Regions from separate parts of the Homo sapiens genome. Here region 1 is linked to region 2. The links come from fine-mapping of genetic effects on gene expression. Tissue or cell type: whole blood. Region 2 holds a variant in brackets; the other region holds the start of a gene. All regions are shown on one strand. Distances are from middle to middle.

Region 1 (8,000 bases), 98 kb before region 2:
ATAACCTTTGCATGACATTCTATTATCTTTTGATTACTCAGTTGGATGAGTTTCTTTTTTAAACTTATTATAGACACGAATCATTTCCTTCAAATGTATGTTTCAAATATTTTCTCCCTGTCTGCCATACCACTTAGCTTTGCTAATGATGTTTTGATGTGGACTTACATTGTAAATTTCTTACATAATAACATCTACAGTATTTCCCTTCATGATTTCTGGGTTGTATATTTGACTTGGGAAGTTTTCCTATCTCAAGATTATAATGATCTATATTTTCTCCTAAAATTTGTGTAGGTTGGCTTTTAGGTTGAGATTTTAGTTTTCTTAGAATGAATTTTGTGTATAATGGAGAGATATATCTTTTTTTTTTTTTTATGAGACAGAGTCTTGCTCTATTGCCCAGGCTAGAGTGCAGTGGTGCGATCTTGGCTCACTGCAAGCTCTGCCTCCAGGGTTCACGCCATTCTCCTGCTTCAGCCTCCCAAGTAGCTGGGACTACAGGCGCTCGCCACCATGCCTGGCTAATTTTTTTGTATTTTTAGCAGAGATGGGGTTTCACTGTGTTAGCCAGGATGGTCTCGATCTCCTGACCTCAGGATCCGCCCGCCTCGGCCTCCCAAAGTACTGGGATTACAGGTGTGAGCCACCGCGCGTGGCTATGGAGAGATATATCTTTATATATTTATTTAAAAATTATGAATATCTAACCGTCAGTTTATTAACTAGGTATTACTTTCCATATTGATTTGCAATTCCGATGCTATCACATACTACAACCTCATATGTGTAGGCTCGTTTTTGGACTTTCTATCCTGTCCCATTAACCTGAGTGATCTTGTGCAAGACATATGTTTTAGTTATAGCTGATGGTTCTGATATCTGCTTGTCAGACAAGTCTCCCATTTCATTCTTCAAAAACTCTTCTCAACCATTCTTATTTCCTCTGTCAGATGAATTTTCAAAAGCTCTCAAATTCTATAAAGTATTCTATTGATATTTTTGTTGCAACCCCATAATTTAATGCAGAATAGACTGAGGCCCTTAGAAAGTTCACTTTCCTGAGGTTTCTACTCCATTATAATGCAGGGGCCCTCATCCCTACCCTCAGCTCTGGGAAAAGGCAAAAAAAAAAATCATTAATCAAAAATTTGGGGTGAGGTGGGGCAGAAATAGAAGCTGCTATGAGGCACATATTTCTGCATTATGTTAGGGAGTTCAAAGATTGGGCAAGGGGTGTCTAAAAGGCAAGGAAGCTGGAATGAAAAAGGCACCAGGAGGCTTCTCCTAAGGAAGGCTGTGCTGGGGAAGCCCAAGTGGAAGGCACTGGCGGGGGTCAGGTGGGCAGGGTGGTGAGTGGTTAACGTGCAGCTCATTAGCCAGATTGCCGTGGCTGAAGCTGGAGCCAGGAGAAGCAGATGTTCCCAGCTGTGCCTTGCCTCTCCCAGTTCCAGCAGTGACAGATGGGCGAGAGCCAGCTGTCCAGGATCAGCAGTAAGGATCCTTTTGCTTATCACTCAGGCGCTGCTGGCTGCCACATGGGTGCATTCTGGACCTGAATGCCTGCGTGTGCATGTGTGCGTGTGTGTGTGTGTGTGTGTGTGTGTTTTGAAAAGATGGGGAGAAGGAGGGGGACAAGGTAGATAGTGGGAGTGTATGACTGCTGGCTGTCTCCTTGCCCTCCTAGCATGCAGGACTGTTTTGCCTGTGCTGAGAAAGTGGCCTTGCTGCCATTCCAGTCAAATTAGGGAAGAGTTATTTGGGTGGAGGTGTCAAGGGCCCAAGGAAGGCCCATGGGAGCCAGAAGTCTGACCTGCAGCTATCACTGTGGGTGATTAGCTGATTTATGAGATAAGTCAACTATTAGGGCTGGATCTTCCAAACGGCCCCTCCTGGAGGATCCACTATGGTTTAGTCTATTAGCTCTAATTACAGGCTACTCTGTAGGAGAACAGAGAACGGAGCCAGGACTGTAGGACCCAGAGGGAAAGAAAGCAAGTAACCCTGACCCCAGAAACAGGGGCTGGATTGAAGTCTCAAGTACTGGGGTAAGGAAGGAAACCCTGAGAGAAGGGGTTCCAGAGCCAGAGTTGTAGATGCTCCAGTAACTTAGGCAGCCCCCTAAGTGGTTCTGTGACCAGCTGTGCTGCTGGCAGAAAGGGTGCTGTGAATTGTAAAATATATATTTGGTCTTTGTCCACATTTCCTGGCAAACAACCCCTAAAGCCCTCAAAATCCCTGAAGTGACAAATGTCTTTTTATATGCTAGTGAGCTGACTGCCGGGGATGGGAACTAGACTGGGGTGGGGGAGGCCTGGGTGGCAGAAGGCAACCTTGTGATTGGAGTTGGGACTTTCGGCCCCACCCCCAACTTCCAGGGAAGGTAGAGAGGTTGAAGGTTGAGCTGATAACCAGTGGGCAATGATCTAATTAATCACGCCTATGTAATGAAGTCTCCATAAAAGCCCAGAAGGATGGGGTTGGGAGGGCTTCTGGATGGCCATACATGATTAGGTCCCTGCAGGGTGGCTCGCCTCCTTCACATATACCTTGCCCCATGCAGCTATTCCATCTGGTGTTCATGGTACCATTTGTAATAACCGTTATAGTAAGCCAGTAAATCCAAGTCAATGTTTCCCTGAGTTCTGTGAGCCATCCTAGCAAACTAATTGAACCCGAGGAGGAGGGTCAGGTAAACCTGATTACAGCCGATGGAACAGAAGTATAGGTGACAACATGTTACTTGTGATTGTTGTCTAGAGGAGGGCAGTCTTGTGGGGCTGAGCCCTCAACCTGAGGCTATCTCCAGGTAGATAGTGTAAGAACTGAATAAGATTAGAGGACACTCAGCTACTGTCCACTGAAGAATCTGCCAGAGAGAACTGACTGCAGGCGGGAGGAATCCCTACACGCATTTTGGTGACCACAGGTCACCGAAGTGATTTGTGTTGAGAGTGCAGTAGGAAAAAACTGAGTTTGGTTTTTTGTACATCATAAGAGCTGCTCTCTGCATTTGAGTCTGAATATGCTCTCTCAGACCCACCTCACAACCTGTTCACTGAGTCTTAGGAACATCCAAGGAAGGAAGGGAACTGGAACAAGCTCTGACACTTTCAAACAGCTGGAATGCATGGTGTGCACGCAGTCAGCCTGAGGAGGTGTGGAGGATGAGCTAAGGGCTCAGAAACCTTTAGGGGAGCAGCTTTTAACTTCGGAGGAGTCAAAGACCCTTTGAAGAATTTGATGAAAGCTTTGGCTGGTCTCTCCAGAAAAAAAAATGCCCGCTTACATATACAGAATTTAGAGTACACTTTCATGGGGTTTCCCCACCCCCTGAAACCTATCAATGCAACTTCATTGGGATGAATGGATCTCAGATTGAGGATGCTTTTCTGCCTTTTCTATCCCTCCCCAAGCAAAGCACTGGTCTCAGCCTTCAACCATCCCCAGCATGGTGCATTCTCTCCCCGGGTATGTGAGCTCCTCTCCCCCTCACAAGTATCAGCTTGTATTCACAATATTCCCAAGTATTCACTGGAGGAGCCAGGCCATTCAAGCGTTCATCTTGAGGTGAAGTCTGACCCCCCCACCCCTTGTCCCATTGAGGAGGCTCTGACTCAGCCTCCTCTCCCCCTCCCTGAGGAGACACTTCCAGTTTTTCCTGCTCTTTTCTCTGTTCCTCCACCCACCTCTCCACCCCATTTCCCACTGGCCTTCAGGAGTTTTCCAAGATCCTTCCCTCTTCCGACACTTACCCCATCTTTTGGGGGATCCAGCAGCCAGCCCAGCTCTCCCTGTGCCTTGCTTGTGTCCATCAGAGTAACTGAAAGTGGGGAGAAAAGAAGTCTGTCACCTCTGGGGGAGGAGGTGCCCCTGCAGCCCACATTAATCATTCTGGGGCCTCAGCCCCAGGCTGCAACATCCTGTTCCTAAAAGCTGTGACTTCCTGAGGCTTAGGGGAGAAAAAGGGCTCAGGACTGAGGAGTGAAGAGCTCCAGGGATTTCACTCTTCTTTGTGTGTGTGAAGGAAGGCAGGTAGAGTGGGACAAGGGTTGGGGCGCTGGGTCTTTGACCAAAGTCAATGCAAGAAGAGCAGCCCCACGAGACGCTCAGTTACCCAGGCTGCTGCGTCCTGGGACACCCATCAGCTGCAGGATTGGAACGCGTGGAGGGCAGGAGGAGCTCACCTCTGCTAGCCAGGAGTGGGCAGGGTGGACCGGGGACCTCAGAAGGGGTTTCCTGGGTAGGGAGGCTCACCTCCACTGTCCGAAGCCTGCTTTGGCCTGACCTGGCCAGTGATCAGAGCCGTGAAGTGGGGATAAGAGGCACAGCTACCTGCCTGGGAAGTGGGGGGGAGTAAGGCCGGAGAGGGTGTTCCAACTTTCACATGGAATATTCGACTCGGACAACTGGGAACCCCTGTGGCGTCAGTCCTAACCCTTCTCCCGGAGGCAGCTCCCTCTGTCCCTGGCCTAGGTTGGCAGGAGGCGACTTCCCACCTTCAACTTCCAAGGGCTCAGATCTCTGGGGTGGGCACCTGAAGCTGGGACTGTCTGGGAATGCAGGCAGGGGTGCGGGTGCAGGTGCTACTTCCTGGCAAGGGTCCGGAATTCCCTCCCCACTCCCAGGAGCAGATTGCTGGCCTGCGGGAGTGGGGGTGACTGACCCGGGAGAGCAGCCGCTTGGGGTTAAAGACCAAAGATGGGCCTGGCCAGTCGATAGCCTGGCGGTCGGGCACAGCGAGAGAGCTGGCGAGGGTCTCGGGGAACATGGCCCCTAGGAATGCCGGCTTCTGCAGGGGGGTGCTGGCCGGGCCCCGGGAAGGGGCGGGGCGCGGGGGTTGGGGGCGCGGGGGCGGGGGTCGGTACCTTCCTTGGCGCGCGCCCCCGGGGGCAGCGGGGCGCAGAGCAGCAGCACCAGCCCTAGCCCCAGGGGCCAGCGCCGCTCCATAGCTCCGGGCCGGGACCTGGGACAGTGGCCCGGATGGCAGCGCCAGGTTGCAAGGGACTAGGAGAGCCGGGCGGGCCGGGCGGGGGCGGGGGGCGGGGCCAGCGCCGGGGGCGGAGTCCCGGCCTCACCTGGTTCACCTCCTTAAAGGGACAGTAGGGCAGGAAAGAAACTTGCTAGACTGGTAATCAAATTCAAGAACCGGAGGCGTCTTGACCCGAATGAGACTGCGGGCGCCGCCTAGTAGGTGGGATTAAGAATTGACGAACCTTTTCCCAATTCTAATCCTAAACTCAACCCAATCTTGATCCAGCTTTTAACCTAATTCTACCTCTGACTTGAATTACACTCCTATATTCCTCTTTCTGTCTTTGTGCAGGCCCCAGAGCTGGGTAATAGGGCCGGGGAAGGCAAGGGGTAAGAGTCATATCTTCACCCTCTAGCAGGGGAGGCTTAGATGACCACAATGCAAGGTGGGGTACAACCTGCAGTGAAGCATCTGGAGATTAGAAGAGGAAGCAAGCCCAGTCATCGGGGCACATTAGTTGAGTCTTCAGGGAGAGCTGGTGTGACCTGGGTTTTCAGTGGCAGAGATTGGGAAAGGCACCAGCAAGGGCCTGAAGGCAGGGAGCCTCAAGGTGCGCCCAGGGAGTGGTGAATGGACCAGTTTGACTGCTGGGGCGCAGGATTTGTCTTGGGAATCAGGGCAGAAAGGCAGGTGTGGGCCAGGGCTGGGTAAACAAGAAAAGGAGTTTGAACCTTGACATGCACTTACACAGCAGACATGAATATCTGGTTAAGGTTCCAGCCACAGGTGGCAGGGAAGGATATTTTAACCCATCTTAGTGGTGTCAAACCACGTGCCCTCTCACTTTCTTGCGGACTTCCTTATATTCTTTTTCTTTTTTGAGATGGAGTCTCGCTCTGTGGCCCAGGCTGCAGTGCAGTGGTGCAATCTTGGCTCACTGCAACCTCCGCCTCCCTGGTTCAAACGATCCTCCTGCCTCAGCCTCCCGAGTAACTGGGATCACAAGCGTCAAGCGTGCACCACCACACCCAGCTAATTTTTCTATTTTTAGTAGAGACGGGGTTTCACCATGTTGGCCAGCCTGGTGTCGAACTCCTGACCTTAGGTGATCCCTCCTGATCTCAAGTGATCTCCCTGCCTCTGCCTCCCAAAGTCCTGGAATTACAGGCCTGAGTTACTGCGCTCTGCCGAGACTTTCTTATATTCTATTTAGTAAATGTTTGTTCAGTTTCTGCTATGCATGCAGGAAGCTCTAGAAGCACCTAAGAACAGAAGGACAATGTCTTGCCCTATATAAGCTATTAATTTGGGGATGCTGGGGGTTGAGACATAAATAATTGCACAAATGATTGAAATGGCGGGCAGGAGTGGACCCCAGGCAAGGTACACACAGGGATCACAGTAGCTCAAAGGGGAGTGATGCATTTACTAAAGAGGCTGGGGGTCCACTCCTGGCCCCTCCTTCTTTCGCTCCATCCCATCTGGGTAAATTGTTCATAATTTTTCTATCATTTACATTGTTGCACATTTCGGTACTGTGAATGAAGGGAGGTGGTGGATTATAGGTGCTTTTTCTCATTTTCAAAATGTAATGCTTCTCAGGTTTTTTGTTTTTTTTTTTTGCTTTCTTATGCAGATACGTATATGACAAACACGGCCCATCAGTTCTTGGCTCAGACTATCCTTATTTGCATAAATAAATGTAATTCATGTACATTGGTTAGGAAATTCATGTTGAACATACAGAAACAAAATGGGAAGTAGAACCCTCTGCCCTCCAACACTCTAATTTCTGTTCCCCAAGTTAACCACCATCAACTGTTTCTTGTAAGTCCTCCCAGGATTGCTTCCTCGCTGTGTACACACCATCGTGTATTTTTCCCTCCCTCTCTCCCTCTACTCCCACACTTACATGCTTTTAAAATGTGTATACAGAGGGGCCATCTGACACACATTGCTCTGCACCAGAGGCCTCTTTTCTAATGTTAAAGACTCCAGGAAGGAGGAGGAGGCTCACGCTGGCTGGCGGGGGTCAGAGCTTTGTGATTTCAGCAGGGAGGAATGGGCGAAGGGTACAAAGCCAACAGAAGGGGGGAAATGGAGCAAGCGTTGGACAATTGCTGCTAGGACATAAGCCAGACTGTGGTGAGGTAATGCATGTGCTTGCTGCTGCAGTTTGTTAAAGTTACAAGACCCTTGGGACTCCAGAGGGTGGGGGGTGGGGGGTGGGTGTGTGGAGTGGGGGAGACTGCTCCATGCAGTGAGACATGGAGTCTAGAACCCTGGAAAAAAAAGTCTTGCTTTTTGTTTTAGGATAGGCTCTTTATCCTGGTCTGAAAGTCTCTGCATATGGGGAATGAATGTCCACTTTCTGTCTCCTTTCAGGATTATCTTGATTTGACATTTTCTGGTTAGTTTGTCATGAGAGGAGGCACATCTTCAAGTTTAGTCTCTGTTCTTAACTAGCAGTACAACTTTTGTCAAATTATTTATGTTCTCTGGACCATGGTTTCAGTTTCCCTAGACCTAGATGATTTCTGAGGCTATATTCAGGGATGGTCTCAGAAAATAAAAAGCTAGCAGGATTTTGAGTCAGGAGACTTTGGCCAGTTCCCTTAGCCATAATGTGCCTCAGTTTCCTTAGCTATAAAATGAGATTAATCACGTCCACCCCACAGAGTCAGTGTAATGATCAAAAGAGGAGAAAGTGCTTTATGAACTGTAAGGTACTGAGCAAATGTTAATTGGCTAGGAGAATGGTGGAGGCTAGGAATTGCTGGAGTTCTCCTGCAGGCCTCCCAGCTTGCTCCCAGAGCAGAACAACCTCAATTACTAAGACATCATTATTTTTCCATTCCAAAATCAACTTTACTGAGGGACAACTTGCATAAAATAAGTTGCAGCCATTCCAAGTGTACGGTTCAATGGGCTCTCACAAATGTATATGCACCACCACCTCAGTCAAGATGCAGAGCAGTTTCAGCATCTAAAAACATTCACTGGTGCTCCTGTGAATCAATCCCAC
Region 2 (8,264 bases):
GGGTAGTGAGTGTAGGGGCCAGAAATGATTATCCAAGAGTAAATTGAGGTCCAGAAGCTGTTCAGAGGCACAGGAGCCCTTTTTCATCTTGTCTTTGTTCCTGTTGATAGTGAATATACAGCAGCTGTCTTGAAGATGGAGAAGGAAAGTGAGGGGTGCTGACTGAGAAACTGCCTTACAGACCTCCTTCCTCTCTCCATCTACCTCTAAGTCAAATGAAAAGGAATCCAGTGAAATTCTCCCAGCTCCCTTAATAAAGATGACTCTCCAGCTCTCATCTTGCTAGGAGAATGTTCCACTTCTTTTTCCACAAATAAAAATAATTTATGTTTGTACAGTGCTTAATTTCAAGAAATTTCATAGATATTATTTCATTTGAGGAAGGAGAGAATTGGGGCTGGGTTAGGCCACACAAGCCTGGCTCAATGTCAAGTATTTCCTAAATGGAGACAGAGGTCTGACTCTAAGCTTTATATATGACACTGGTTAGATTTTAGAGTTTTTTAGTTTTTTGAGTTGTGGTGGGAGAAGCACTATAATCATTATTAATATAGCCACCATGAAACATAGATTTAAAATTCTGCTCTGCTAGTTTGAGGTAGCATTAAGATCAGTAGAATGATTTTGAAGGTTTCTGCTTATCAAAGAAATGTTTAAAGAAGAAGAAGTGTGGGTGTGGTGGCTCACACCTGTAATCCCAGCACTTTGGGAGGCTGAGGCGGGTGTATCACCTGAGGTCAGGAGTTTGAGACCAGCCTGGCCAACGTGGTGAAATCCCCTCTCTACTAAAAGTACAAACATTAGCCAGGTGTGGTGGCACACACCTGTAGTCCTAGCTGATTGGGAGCCTGAGGCAGGAGGATCACTTGAACCCAAGAGGCAGAGTTTGCAGTGAGCTGAGATCACACCACTGTACCCGAGCCTGGTTGACAGAGTGAGACTCCATCTAAAAAAAAAAAGAAAAGAAAATATCTATTTCAAACATCTTTAACAAACAATTTTAAGGTATCTAGGCTGTCTAAACATTTATTCTAAAGTTCTCTCTACGAAAAACAATCTAGACTTTATAAAAGATTAGTAAATCTAACCTATTATAAAAATAGTTAAGTTTATAATACCAAGTTAAATTTTTTAGGATCTATATGTGCTTTTTATGATTGGGACACTTGCATTAAGAATAGTACTGCTTATACAGATTTTATTAAAGAATTAGACTTATTTCACTACTTTATTTCAAAGATTGATAATACTTTTATTTTGGTGTATTTTTGGCCATATAGAGGATTAATTTAATGGTAAGTTTTAGTCAGAAAACCAACCTTCTATCATATTGTCCTTATAGGAAAATACAATGAACGATATCATGTTGTACTCTTTGATAACATAGTTTTCTAGGAATATTCTGGGTAAAATGGTTTAAATAATTTGGGAGTAAATTTCTTTTGCTGAAGCTTTTAATTTCAACTACTCATGCAGCAAAATATTTTGCCAAAGTCCAATGACTTTCAAGTTTAATAGTGGCATTAGGTAAAGCTGAAAATAGGCCTATATTTTGTGAACATAATCACATTATGACTGAACCTCCTTAGACTTCCTTCCCTAGCCTTGTGGCCAGGATATAATTGCATCCGTCATGGGCCATAAGTCCCAGTGCAATGACGGGTAATTGATTTTGATGTGGAGGTTGAGGGGTGAGAGAGGGAGGGCTCCTCCCACACCACATTGCAAGCCTTCCTAAAAATCACCCAGACATCTTTGATGTCCTGAAATCCCTTTCCCCATTACAGCTGACTCCTTCCCAGTAACTCAGGCTTCCTCACTTAGATGCCTATGCATGATTCTGCTCCTGGACAGGGTCATGTGTTGAGGCAGGCATCTTATGGAGAGAAGGATGTGATGGAGCACTGAGCTTCTCAGGGCTGAGGGTCTGGTATCTGACTCCCCAACATCATATATTGTTGGTCACTAGCAGCGGAACTGTGGCGTCTTCACTAGAGCAGTCCCTCTATATGCTGTGCCTTGGTTCCTGGCTTCATCTTTGCCCAACTCTATTGTCCTCCTACAGATTCTGTGGGTCTTTCCCTAATAAATGATTTTTTCTGTTTAAATAACTCTGAAGGGATGTAAGTTTTAAAAAAGCCACCAAAATTCTCATTGACCCTGTTAACTTCAACTTTACTTCTAAGCCAGTTCTTAGCCTTTCCAAGTACTTTACTAGTCTTCCCATCTCAGAATTTCCCAATGTACAGGAAAGAGAGCCAGAGGGCAGTTCAGCAAAACAAAATCACAGCCACCTCGGGATCCCCAATTTGTCCAGGGACAACAACAGTAGCAAAGATACGAGGTCTTGGAGAGAAACCCTCCCAGAACCCACACAAGCAGAGGTGGAAAAGGTAGACTGGAAACCTGGTTTCTTCTTTTCCTGCTGTTCCAACCAGCAAGCCCCTTGCCCAGGCCCTACCAAATATATACCCATTTTTCTTCCAAGGTGTGTCCTTTCAAGGTATGGGGCCTGCAGTATAAAGCTAGTGATTTTCTTTGCTTAGAACAGCTCTGGGACTTCTGCACTGATTCTGCCTACCGGAAAACATCTGCTATTAATAATGCCCTACTAATAGTAGCTAACAGTGCCAGGCACTGTTCTAAGCATATTTCCTATATTAGCTGTGATTATCACAACCCTGTGAGGCAGGTGCTAATGTCAACTCCAGCTTATCCACTGAAGACTCAGAGGCCCAGAGAGGTTAGAGGAACTTGTCCAAGGTCACAGTCAGGAACTTCAGGGGTCAGAATCCAGATCCAGGTAGCCTGGCTCAATGCCCCTGTGCTACGGCACTGCCACTTTTCTCTCCGAGGCCCAGCCCTGCCTCTACAGGTGCTGTGCTCCAGCAACGTTCAGGTGAGGCACTTTACTTTTCCCTTTGTGATGTGTGCTTTAATGATAATGAGACAAGATGGATTAAATTCACTTTCATGATTGTTTCCCAGAAGGCAGCAACTGCTTTCGGGAGCAGCTGAAGGCTGGAGATAACATGGACCTCCATGGTGAGTCAGTAAGACCCATCAATCAGGCACAGCCAGGGGAGGAGGCAGACACTGCAGGGAAGATGGCCACCAGGAGCAGCTGAGGGATCCAACTGCTGGATTAAGGGAGATTGTGTGGTTAGGAGGCCTCCCCTCCCATTGTAAGATGAAGGAGGTACATTTGTCCATTGTCAGGAGGATCATAGAAAATCTTAATCTCCACTATGTGGGACTGGTACTTCAGAAGCTCCAGGCAAAGACTTAAGTCATTAATAGGCTTAATATAAAGGCTTAGCTGTTACCTACAACTCAAATATCTTGGAGAAATGTTGCCCCCCAAAGGGCTACACAAATATTACTT[C/T]TCTAAGTGAGCCTCAGCTTAGATGTGGGAAATGGTCTTATATGCAGAGAAATTTCATTAAATTTTAATAAGTATTTTTCCACATTTACTTCACCTTTTCTTTTTTCCTTCTGGATAGTGGTGTTCTAGTTCCCTCCCTACAGCCCCCTTTTAACTGTCCACTTGTCCAGTTACCCACCTTCTGTAGGAAGTATTCATTGACTGGGAACTGCAAACTCGGTGATCTAGCCACTTCCCCTCAGTTGAAAGTTGCTATGTCAAGAAAAAGAACCTGTGCAATTAGAATAATTGGAACTTTCCTACCTTAAAGATGTTCATATACCTGGGTTCTAAGCATGGGAGATAGTAGTGGTAAATAATGTATGAGCTCTCTGAGGAGGTAGGTGAAGATGAGATCTGGAACTCAAGGAGGGTTAAATTTAAGCAGAAGCAGGGTAGCCTCTTCCACTGTGAAGGACTGGAGTAATGATTAGAGGGCGGTGACTGTCAACCTTGACTACACCTTAGAATCACCTAAAGGGAGTTGTTGAAAACCCCAATGCCTGACTTACACCAAGACCAAGTGATATAATTAGGCTTTGTGTCCCCACCCAAATCTCATCTTGAATTGTAATCCCCCAAATCCGCATAATCTCTCCAAGGGAGGGACCAGATGGAGATAATTGAACCATGGGGGTGGTTTCCCCCATGCTGTTCTCGTGATAGTGAGTGTGTTCTCCCAAGATCTGATGGTTTTATAAGGGGCTCTTTCCTCTTCTCTTGGCACTTCTTCCTGCCACCTTATGAAGAAGATGCCTGCTGCTTCCCCTTCACCTTCCACCATGATTGCACATTTCCTGAGGCCTCTCCACCCACGCTGGACTGTGAGTCAAATAAACCTCTTTTTTTTTTTTTTTTTTTTTGCAAATTACCCAGTCTTGGGCAGCTCTTTATAGCAGTATGAAAATGGAATAATACACTAAGCAAATCAGAATCTCTGGTGTCAGGCTCAGACTTCAGTAGTTTTAAAGGTCTTTGGGTGATTCCAGTATGCAGCCAAGGAAGGAGCCCACTGATATAGCAGTATAGCAGGGCAGCAGAGGATGAGGCCCGTCTGAGTTTGGATCCTACAGAATTATAGTGGCCCTGTTATAGAGTAATGAGATTTGTCTTCAGAAGTATTGAGCACTCACAGATTTGTATTAGAGATGTCAGAAAATCGGATTGAGGTTTGTAAATTGGGTGTGTAGAACACAGACAATGGAGTTGAGAGTGTTGGCTCAAATAATTAAACATTAGTCTGAGAGATCTTGATTTTGAAAGAAAGTGAAGGAGCTTCATTTAGGTGGCACACAGGTGGAGAGAACATCTGGGCCAAAGGATTGAAGCTGTTGATGAAGGTGACAAGGGATGGTCTCAGAGCAAATAAATGAGAGCTGGGAAGTAAGAGGCTGTGGTGAAGAGAGGATTTGGTGAGGCATTGTTTTCAGACCCATGATGGGATTTGTTATAGAAAGACAGCTCGAATTAATGATGGTCCAGTTGAAGGGTTACAGAAAAAATTTATTCCATGCACACTGTCTTACATATCATTTTGGGACTGTGTGTATTGATTATGTTTTTTATTTTCTATGTTTTATGATGCTTCAACATCTTGGAGGCCTTGTTGGCTGGGAGAGACTGCTCCTGTCAGTGCTAACTAGTTCCTAGGTATGCAAACATCTTTAAGAAGGGAAAGTTCCCATTGTTTTAACTGCATAGATTCTGTCCCTATGAAGTGGCAACTTTCAGCTGAAGGGAAGTGGCTAGATCACCAAGAGTTTGCAGTTCCTGGTAAATGAATACTTTCCCAGGCTTTGGGATAACTGGACAAGTGGGAATTTAGAAGAAGGGGCAAATGTGTCCCCTGTGAGAATGTCATTAAGATGCAAACCAACCAATCCAGAGCTCATATACTCAGTCACCTCCTTTATCTAACTCTCACATGCCAAGTCAACATTTTCCCCACCCTAATCACCCCAGGGTGAGGTCTTGGACTACTAGATACCACGCATGTCATCCAGAGCCTGCTGAAATTATTCAAACTATCCTATCTTAGACTTCCTTAAGTTTTCTACTCCACTCACTCATTTCTTCCCATAGAAACCACAATCAAGTCTCTCGGGCATGGTCTTCCCTTTCTTTTTCTGTCTCCTGACAGAAAGAGACAGTATGCCTCTCCACGTGGCCCTGCATGACACAGCTTGCCTCCCCCTCTTAGGAACTGTGAGTAATAAACTGTTCTTTCAAAGGCAGCTGTTTCTGTGTCTGTCACTTTACCCTACCTGATTAAAACAAATCTGGGTACAAATCTTGAAACAGTGTTAAATATTTCAGCATTTAAAATGAAAGACAATGTTATTTCCCATTCCAGCAGTTGATTACACAGATTTGAATGGCTTCTCTGTGTTCTTTTAACCCTGGATGGAGTGTGGCAGTCATTATATGATCTCTGGCTAGACAGCATTTCTGTATGTGTGTTTTGTTGTTTGGTCAGTAGACCTTTGCACATGCACCGCTGAGGTTTGTACAGGTGAATTCAGTACTTTCTGGGTTGGAGTAGGCATCTTAAAAGCCATCTTTGGCTCCAGTCATACTATTCTAGAAATCGCAGTATCATTTTGGCACTGTTGATTACTCCATCCTTGAAATTCCCTTTCTTGGTTTCCATGACACCACAATATGTTTGATTTTCTTCTACTTCTCTGATTGCTCTTTTAAAAAAAACTCCGTTGGGTATTCCCCTTCCTCTGCCTATCCTGTATTTTTATTTGAAAAGCATTTATTGAATAACTGACACATACATGTATGTAAGGAAGGTATTCGATGAAAAACGTAGGTTTATCCCACCTCTATTCCCCAGTCTCCAAACTTTTACTTTGGCAGAAATATGTGTGTCTTTATCTGCGTGTATACATGCACACGTAGAGAACACATAGGAAATATACAGACACATACATGCACATACAATTATATAAGTGTGTGTATATATATATATGTGTATATATGTGTGTGTATATATATGTGTATATATATGTGTGTGTATGTATGTGTGTATATATATATATATATATTTGTTTGAGATGGAGTTTCGCTCTTGTTGCCCAGGCTGGAGTGCAACGGTGCAATCTCTGCTCACCGCAACCTCCACCTCCTGGGTTCAAGCGATTATCGTGCCTCAGCCTCCCAAGTAGCTAGGATTACAGGCATGTGTCACCACACCTGACTAATTTTGTATTTTTAGTAGAGATGGGGTTTCTCCATGTTGGTGAGGCTGGTCTTGAACTCCCGACCTCAGGTGATTGGCCTGCCGTGGCCTCCCAAAGTGCTGGGATTACAGGCATGAGCCACTGCACCCAGCTACAATTAAATATTTTTGCTCATAAATGCTAGCATACCATAAACCTTGATTTATTTACTCATTCATTCAACAATTTTTTAAGACTCTATTCCATGCCAGACACTGATAGGAACTGGGAATACCATGGTGAGTGAAGCAGATGGCCTTTCACAGAGTTTATGTTGGAAGGAATGGGCAATTAGCAGTAGAAATGCAAGTAAGATGATTTCCAGTAATGACAGATGATTAGACATTAAAGCATGATAATGTGAGAGGGGGTGGAGAGGCAACATTACATGGGGTGTTCAACGAAGGCCTCTTTGAGGAGTCAATATTTGAGTTGAGACAGCATCTGAATGACAAAAAGCCAGATTGGGAAGATCTATGGGAAGAGCATTCCAGGAGTGGAAATAACAAGGGAAAATGTGAGATGTGCCAGAAGACAAGAGTAGAATGAGGGATGACTCCTTAATACACATAATCACATGCTTTGCTTTTTTCATTTAACAACTTTTATGAGACCTGGTTCCACACCTGCCATAGATAAAACTGTTTCATTCTTCTCAGCAGCTGCATAGAATTCCATCACAGGGATAAACCAAAATGCATTTAATTGGTCACATATTGATTGATATTTAAGAAATTACTAGATTTTTGATAATCCAAGTAACGCTGACATGAATATTTTTGAACATTCATATTTTCCCACAAAGCAAATAAATTTGTAGGGTCAAACCCTGGAAGTACATTGAAACAAATAATACATGCCATTTATTTTAATTAATATCATCCACTTTCCCTGTATAGAAATTGTATACATTTATACTCTCATTAATAACATACAAGAGAGCCTGTTTCACCTTCCTGCTCTGTGTTAGTCATCTTTCAGTGTTGTTAATTTGACAACTTTATAATTTTATTTTGCTTTCTCTTATGAATGAGATTGAAACCTTTCCGCTGTGTAAGGGCTATTTACATTTCCTTTTCTACAAACAGTCTATTCATAACTTTGCCCATTTTTTGGAGTTATCTTTTTCTTATTAATCGTTAAGAGCTCTATATGTATTAATGAAATGAGCCTCTTTCATTCATTACATGTGAATTTCCAAGTTTCTCTTTTCTCTTTTTGGTTTGCTTAAAGCGGCATCCCATGGAGAAAGCTTTGGGTTATTTTTTACATAATAAATTTCATGTTTTGTGTTATGCTTAGAAAGTCAGTTCATTTTTTTAATGTTAATGCTCCTTGTCTTATCTTGAAGCTGCTCTTCTAACTGCACTTGCTCATTCTGGGAGATCTCGGCCATGCAAATCTCAGATATGCTGGTGACTTCTACCAGCTATGCCAGTTTTTAACATGCTGGTGACTTCTACCAGCCATGCCAATCTCTAACATGCTGGTGAATTCTATCAGCCATGCCAGTCTCTAACATCGGCATTTCTCTACCCAGATTCTCCTGACGCACATCACATAGACTGCTGAGTGTGCTACCCCTTGTCAACATAATCAACAGTGAACTCATC

Evidence for each region. PIP is the estimated chance that this variant, and not a neighbour inherited with it, causes the effect.
Region 1: EPHA1-AS1 starts here. The variant in region 2 is fine-mapped to the expression of EPHA1-AS1 in whole blood (INTERVAL, PIP above 0.99).

The regions. Positions count from the first base shown.
Region 1 is chr7:143,403,856-143,411,855 of GRCh38, forward strand. EPHA1-AS1 (EPHA1 antisense RNA 1) reads left to right here and starts at 3,958. Exons shown (of 5, transcript NR_033897.1): 1 at 3,958-4,031. EPHA1 (EPH receptor A1) reads right to left here and starts at 5,001. Exons shown (of 18, transcript NM_005232.5): 1 at 4,869-5,001; 2 at 3,756-3,823. The coding sequence starts at 4,950. RefSeq lists enhancers at 974-1,488, 5,073-5,685.
Region 2 is chr7:143,501,786-143,510,049 of GRCh38, forward strand. EPHA1-AS1 (EPHA1 antisense RNA 1) reads left to right here. Exons shown (of 5, transcript NR_033897.1): 3 at 2,989-3,045. Among named protein-coding and RNA genes, the nearest start is that of TAS2R41, 28 kb to the left of the region's middle. RefSeq lists a silencer at 2,669-3,129. The variant C/T (reference allele first, on the strand shown) is at 3,386.